Linked DNA regions of Homo sapiens. The protein of the gene in region 2 purifies or fractionates together with the protein of the main gene of each other region. This does not show direct contact. Each region holds a gene or a part of one and is shown on either strand. Other genes may lie near its edges.

Evidence for each region. Proteins that work in one complex are often made in the same cells at the same time.
Region 1: the proteins of CHIA (region 2) and TPP2 purify together in Homo sapiens (affinity purification with mass spectrometry; 3 studies listed by BioGRID and IntAct, with this or other methods). This does not show direct contact.

What each region holds. Positions count from the first base shown.
Region 1 is NC_000013.11:102,594,870-102,598,693, reverse strand, and holds the start of TPP2 (tripeptidyl-peptidase 2), read right to left. Parts: upstream 1,709-3,824; 5' UTR 1,656-1,708; coding exon 1,491-1,655; intron 1-1,490. UniProt on the Homo sapiens protein: Cytosolic tripeptidyl-peptidase that releases N-terminal tripeptides from polypeptides and is a component of the proteolytic cascade acting downstream of the 26S proteasome in the ubiquitin-proteasome pathway.
Region 2 is NC_000001.11:111,307,851-111,311,450, reverse strand, and holds part of CHIA (acidic mammalian chitinase isoform c precursor), read right to left. Parts: intron 1,052-3,600; 5' UTR 984-1,051; coding exon 959-983; intron 1-958.

The sequences.
Region 1 (3,824 bases), on a different chromosome or scaffold from region 2:
GGTGAACCACTTATCCCAGCTGTTTTCCTCCCACTCATCCTATAAAAAGTAAACACACTCCACAGCTGAATGAAAAGCATTATTACTTTGTAATAAAGCCCCAAATGAGTTGATAGCTGTCATTGTTCTAAGTCTTTAAGTTATTAATACAACGACAACTATATAACTCCAGTTACCGGGAGGGAATTCAGTACCTGATCCTCTTCTGATTCACAAAAGATGTGCTGTACTCCAGAGTGGTGCTGAAGAACACACACCAGGAATCAAGATTCCCAGGGGTTTCTAAGCAGATTCGGCCAGACTCCCCCTCGTTACTTCCAAAATGCTACCTCAATAATCAGAAAGCACGATAAAGGATCCAGAAGGGAAGGGACATTGTGGGGAGGAGGATGAGTGTTTAGTGTAGAAAGGAGGATAAGATAGCCAGGGGCTGATCAACGAGAGATCAGCATACAGTAGGATTAGTCAGGGATGCTGGGAGATGGATCTTGAATAACGGTGAAATTTTATTACTGGATTTCAGTAAAGGGTTAAAAGTACAAAAGTTAAACTTTAAAGACTTTAAACAGAATGCTTTTAACGAGAGACAACATACTTTCAAAAAAACTACCTTCTGGTATGATACCTTGAATCTACAGATTTTAAAGTTGCCTAAGGCAAAAAACTAAGTAATTTTTAAAAACCGTCGTATGTTTTCAGGTTTAAAAAAAAAAAAGTCGCATATTTTCATAAGGTCTGAGAAGCTCGCCAAAACCAAACCTAACTGAATTCTCCTTATGTAAACGAAGACTAAGCCACAAGATTCAATGACCCTAAGCAAACACGCTGCAGAAGACCGTTTAAAAATAGAATACACAAAACTACCACAGGAAACAATTCCGGAAGAGGACTGGGTTATCTTCTGGAAACCCAGCTTTCGTGCTTAAAGACAAACTATTCTTCCCCAAACCAAATCTCCCGATCCCTAAACATTAAGTTCTCACATGTCAGTTGCCTATCTGGTGTCTCCACCCCACCCCAATGATAAAAGCTGTAAAATTCTCTTTAAAAACGTCAGGCTGGGACCGGTGTCCGAGGCACGAGGGGTAGGCAGAGGAAGGCGGCGTGGAGGGAAGGAGCCTGGGGGGTCCGGCCTGGCAGCGCCGAAGCGAGAAGGAAGGGGAGTCCCTGGGGCCAAAGGGGGACCCAGGCTTCCCCAGGCAGCCGCGCCGGGCACGCTGCTTTTGTTGAGCTGGGGGGACCACGGCCCAACCTGGGGTCCGGGCCCTCGCCCGCCCAGCGACCCTGGCACTGTGCGCCGTTGAGTCCCCTTGGCGGGCGCCCGTCCCTCCCGCGCCTGGCTCTGACCTCTGCCCACCCCGGTGCTGCCCACCCCGGCCCGGACTCGGCCGCAGAGCGGGGCTTTGGCCTGCCGGGCTCCGAGACTGTGTCCCCACCCGCGTCCCCGGCCGCCCGCGCCCCCGCGCCCGGGCCCTCGGGGGCCGCCTCACCTGCATGCCCGGAGCCCCCGGGTCGACCCCCGTGTCCAGGACTGCGATGAGCACCCCCCGCCCATCATACTCCGGGTAGCGGCAGAGGAAGGAGGCGGCTCCGGTCTCCTTCTTCGGCAGGAGACCGTGAAAAGGGAAGGGCTCCTCAGTCGCAGCGGTGGCCATGGACGCAGGATGGAGGACGAGGAAGCGGCAAACTGCCAGGCTGCGCGCGGACTAGCAGCGCGAGGACACCCGTGCGGCCTCGGGCCGGAGGCGGGGGCGAGGGGCGGGGTCGGCCCGTCTTCCACCAATCCCGGCCTGCCAGGGAGCGGTGGCCAATCACGTGCTGCTACGTAAGCCAACGGCGCCGCTCTCAGGAGCTAGGCCCGAGTATTGCCCGGGCTGCAGTGAAGGGGGAGGAGTCTGAGGACATTACTGGAGGGTTCGGATCTCGAACCTGGGGCCTTGAAGAGGCCCGCGCTTGGGGTTTTTAGGCAACAGCAGGCCTCCAAGCAGAGTCCTGGTGTCCCGGACCGAATCACTCCCCGAGAGACGGGCAAGGAGATGGACCGCCAGCCAGGAATAATGGGAACCCTTCGCTTGGCAAACGATAGTTTCCAAACTTAAGGTTGTGGATGAAACTTTTTGGTGCGGCTGCTGCAGGAGCCCCAGCCCCGGGGTGCTGCTGACCCGAGGCAAGGGAGCCGGCGCACTCACGCTTAGCCGCTAAGGAGTCTGCGGTGTCGGCGAAAGCTCCGGACATGATTTTGGAAGGTCGTAGGTTAAGGGGTGTAGACTTTGGGTTCCCCTGTGTTGTTATGCCCCTTTGATGGGGGTGAGGTGGTGAGGGGGAGCAATAGGGTGGAGACAGGCAATAGTTTCAGTCAACAGGAAGTGGGTTGTTGGTCATTCCGTCGCCTTTGTAGCCAGTAACAAAGCACGAGACTGAAATGGGCCCCTCCTATCCTCTGCTGATCCTTAGCTTCCGGGATTTCTGAAAAACATCTTTTTTTTTCCTCTTACACTGAAGTTTCTGATTGCTCCTTACGGCTGTCCACTCAATTATAGAGCCATAATTTTCAGTTTTCCAGATTCACAGTGCCTGCCGTCAGTTGCTGCAAGCTGCATAGTGGTCCTCTAATGATCTTTATGTCTATGCTCATGCCAGGGTAATCTTAGCCTTTTATTGTGCCGAAGACCCCTTTGGCAATCTGGTGAGGCCTATTTCTCAAGCAGTGTTTTAAAATGCATACAATGAAATAGATAGGATTACCCAGGAAATAAATTATGTTTAAATGCAGTTATCAAAAATACTAAAGGCAATTTTGTTATATAGCAGGAGCTTTACGTGTGTGTGTATAGTTACAGGTGTACTTCTTTTGCATTAAATAACAGGAGCTAGGGCCAAGGCTAATAAACTACCATAACTTCAAAATAGTGAAGAATATAATTATTTGGAGATAGCGGTGAAAACTGCACTACGATGAACTGATTTTTATTGGTGACATAACAGCATAACTACCCTGGTTTTTGCCTACATTCATACTTGATGTGAAAAAAATTAAGAGGTTTGTATCTTTTTTCTACGGAAGTTTTTGAACCCCTTGGATTCTGTCTATGGACACCAAGTTAAGAATACCTGGTATAAAGGAAAGCCTTATGCATGCGGTTTCCAACCCACAGAATTTCAGAGATCCTCCATTAAGTCTCAAAAATTATTCTTATGGCTGTGCAATGGTTTCAGCTGATTCCTTGATCATTTATTCAGTCCATAAGTCTTACACAAGCATGTTCTCTTTAGTGCAGAGGAAAAAGAAAAGTTGAATGTTTTTCTTCTTATTCCCAACTGTTTACATTACCTCTAGAAAAGAATTTCAAATTAACACAGACGAAAACAGAATAACAAACTCGCAGAAGACATTCAGTATAGAGCTTATAGTGATAGAACAGAATGGCTCCCAGTTTCAAGTGAACCATAGTCCAATCACTTCATTTTATAGATGAAGAAACAAAGTTAACTGACTGTCATGGATTACAAAACAGGTTGATGAAAACACGGGATTTGTCTTCTCACAATCTCTCCCCAGTATGTTCTACCACACCATGTGCATGACTTTGCCAGAGTATCACCCAATGAATAAATGGGGAATGAACAGTTTATTATGAAACCTAGGTGGCAGACTTTTTATTAGACTGCCGTAACAATGTTCTTTAGATTTTTCTTTTCCTTTCCTTTTCTTTTTCTTTTTTGACACAGAGTCTCACTCTGTGGCCCAGGCTGGAGTGCAATGTCACAATCTCGGGTAACTGTAACCTCCGCCTCCCGGGTTCAAGCAGTTCTCCTGCCTCAGC
Region 2 (3,600 bases):
AATGCTGAGTCCGAAGTTTACTATCTATGGAAGATGTACTTACTGAAATCACCAACTGATCACTGTAGTCAATGATGACACATCCATTCGTTCTTCCCCTACCTGAGTGATAGAACACAGCCTTCCAACAGATAAGGCATCTGCTAAATCAGAGAATTCAGTATCTTCTGGCCTTTAGTGGTTTTTTGGAATGACTTTCAGGAGGCCTTATATGAGGAGAGAAGAGCTAGGAACTATGGGGTGAGACTCCAGATACCTTTCCCTGACTTCTACAAAGCAATTCTTCTACTCTGATTGTTTTATAAATTGAGCTTGAGGTTTCATTTGGAAAAGGTTCTGAAGCTTAAACAGTTTGCAAATCCCAGCTCTAGAGCAACTAATAAATTCTTGGTATGACTTGTCTCTAAACAACTTACTGAATCAACCTCTTTGAATAATTTAATTTCTAACATGTTTATGGTACATCATCAACTCAGTAGGATAATAGGGGAGTAAATAGAGAAATAATTCTGAAAACAGCAGAACAAAGACAACTTGCATAACTCTATCTCAGTTCCTACTGATTTTCTTCCCCAGAAAAGCTAGTCCAAGGACACAAGCAAATAAATAAACATTATTCCAATTAAAATGAGATGGCGTAGGAAGAAGAGTAAAGAAAAATGAATGGCTGAACAAAAGATGAAAGAGTAAGACTAGCACTAGGAGAAAGTATGCTTTTCCTTTAGGACCAGGTCCATGGGATTAACAAAAGCAGAAATGTTACCAGAGTCAGTTGAAGTTAAGAGAACAAGAGGCAGACTGATTTGTATATAACAAGATTCATTTGAAATTTGAAATGATGAAAGAAGAATGGAAAAGTATAGGGATGTAGTATGAAGACCACTTCATGATTTTCAGAGCCTGTGAGAGAAAAAGAAACTAGATAAGATGAAGGGTCAATCTCTGATTACAAACCCACCTGTGAGGAGAATAAGCTTTGTCATGGTTGCAGTCAGCACCAGTCCCGCAGAGCTTTTTATATGTTCTGATTCTGTGGTTATCACAAAGGCTTCTAAATAGAGAACAATTTGACCCAGATGTGTATGTAGTTAATCAGTAAATCAACGGACCTTCTCTTCTACAAACACCCTCCCAAGACCTTCAACCTACACCCTCCCACCACCAGCATCACCACCTTCTCTGCCCAACAAGGACAGAACAATGTCATGGCTCCTAACAGGGTGGTGGAGACCATCACCATGGAAAACACCAGTTTAATAGCTTTTTTGGCAGTTCCAAGGGCTGATAAGCAACTGTTTAGATACTGTGGTCAGATTTTCTATTGTGGACATTTTGTGTCTGGCATCAAAGCAAGTCTTTATGGAAAAATAAATAAAAAGAAACTTTGGAAGTTATTAGCTGTTCTTAAACCTTTTTTTCCTCATGGAATTATTCATATGTAATTTGTACAATCAGTGCCTAAGAAATCTTCCTTCTTTAGGTGCTACTCTCTCAATATTCTACTCACACATGTTCTTTGGAATGGCTTCAAGTCATGACTAAATGATAATTTTATCTAAGAATGTTTGGATCTCAAAATGTCCCCTATAAAGGTCACCAAGAACTCTCTAGTGTTCTGTAGTTTCAAATTACATCCCCTAAAAACTGCGTTGCTAATGGATAGAAATAATATAGATGATATTGAAATGAGTCTCTTCATAGAAATATTTGCAACTTGACCGTTTCTGGAACTTTGTATTTAAATTAACTCCAATCTACCCCTTCCAAACATAATTCACTACCATTGTTCTATAATACATTTCTCTTTTGGCCAAAGGACTATTCTTTGCCCTCAAACATGCCTTGCATGTCTTTGCTCAAGGTATCCCTCCACTCCTTGCCTGTAATGTCTTGCCTGCAGTGTCTCCTTATCCTCACTGCCTATCCCAATCTTAGCAGTTCTTCAAAGTCCAACTCAGATCTTTTCTATCTTAATGCTCTCTCCTTCTTTTGATTTACTTTATGTACTCTAGCACATATTTTCTGTATTGCTTATATGATGCTGTCTTGTGACAATACCAGGAATGCAGTTGGCGGGAATATGGGTGATCATTATGGGATTTCAGCACCTTAGCAGAGTTCTTGTGAGTCCAGACAGGTTTATCCATTTATCACATTTGGAAACTAAATTGTATCCATTCTTCCTGTGATTGGTAGGTTAAGTGTTTTGTTCTACTCTCAGAACCAGAGAAAGTCTAATAGAAGTGCTGCCAGGAAAAATTTTTATTTTATTTTAGTTCCAGGGTGCATGTGCAAGGTGTGCAGGTTTGTTACATAGGTAAACATGTGCCATGGTGGTTTGCTGTCCCTATTAACCCATCACCTAAATATTAAGCCCAGCATGCGTTAGCTATTTTTCCTGATGCTTTCCCTCGTGCCACCCCCACTGACAGGCCCTAGTGTGTGTTGTTCAGGGAACATTTCAATTGTGAAAATAATCATATCAACAAACACTACAAGTGCCTACTATGTGCCAGAGACTGTATTTGGTGCTTATATCACTTAGGCTTTAATTTTGTAAGCAATCAAAACCAACTCTAAGAAGCACAAATCAATATATTTGAAAGACATGAAGAAACTCACAGAATCAAAAAGAATACAGAACCTGCCTCTAATACAATAGAAACCAAGTCTTTCTATGGGGAGGGGTGTGGGAGGAAGGCTTAGGAGAAATAAACTCCAATTTTATTTTCCATCTATGAATGACAAGAATTAAATCCTGGGGAAAAAGCATATTGTTGTATGACACCAGACCCTCAATTAGGGAAAGGGCAGGGCACTTGGATTTACATTTTCACAAGGACTGGTCACAAAATGAAATTCTAAAAGAATAAAAAGTAAAGCTGAGTGACTAAAAAAAATGACTATCATCAGAGGGCTTGACTTTATTGTTTCTTTTACCCTATAAAGAGGATTATTACTATCACACCAATTTTGCTGATGAGAAAATTAATCAGCTATTAAACACCAGATCCAGATCCCTGTGTTAAGTACGCAAGCTTTTGGCCCAAGTTAAACTGAGTGAGGCATTTTCCCAAGGTAGTCAAGAGAATACAGTTGAGCCAAAGAGAATGTCAAATCAAAGTCAAGGATTTGCAAAAACAAACAGCAAAGCCAGTAGCTCCAGGTTTATCGTATTCAGGACTATAGGGTGTAGCTACCATTTATAGCTAGTGAGGTATTTTCTATTGAATTTGGCATCCCCAGTTCTAAATAAATGACATGACCTACAGATTAAACATTTCTTTTTAATAGCTCCTTAAGAGCCCCAGCAAACTTGCATCCCATCTGAGCACTTGGTTATTGGAAAGAATTACTGCGTTTATGAGTCATAGAATGAATAGTTTTAAACTGTGACCATGTGTATCCTTTTACATTATTGTTTTCAATAACCTTGTATTATTTTTAGTTTCTTTAATTGTAAAATCTACCATACACATGAGTTTAGGTATACATTTTAAGAAAAATATGGCCAAGCCTGGTGGCTCACACCTGTAATCCCAGCACTTTGGGAGGCCAAGGCGGGTGGATCACCTGAGGTCAGGAGTTTGAGACCAGCTG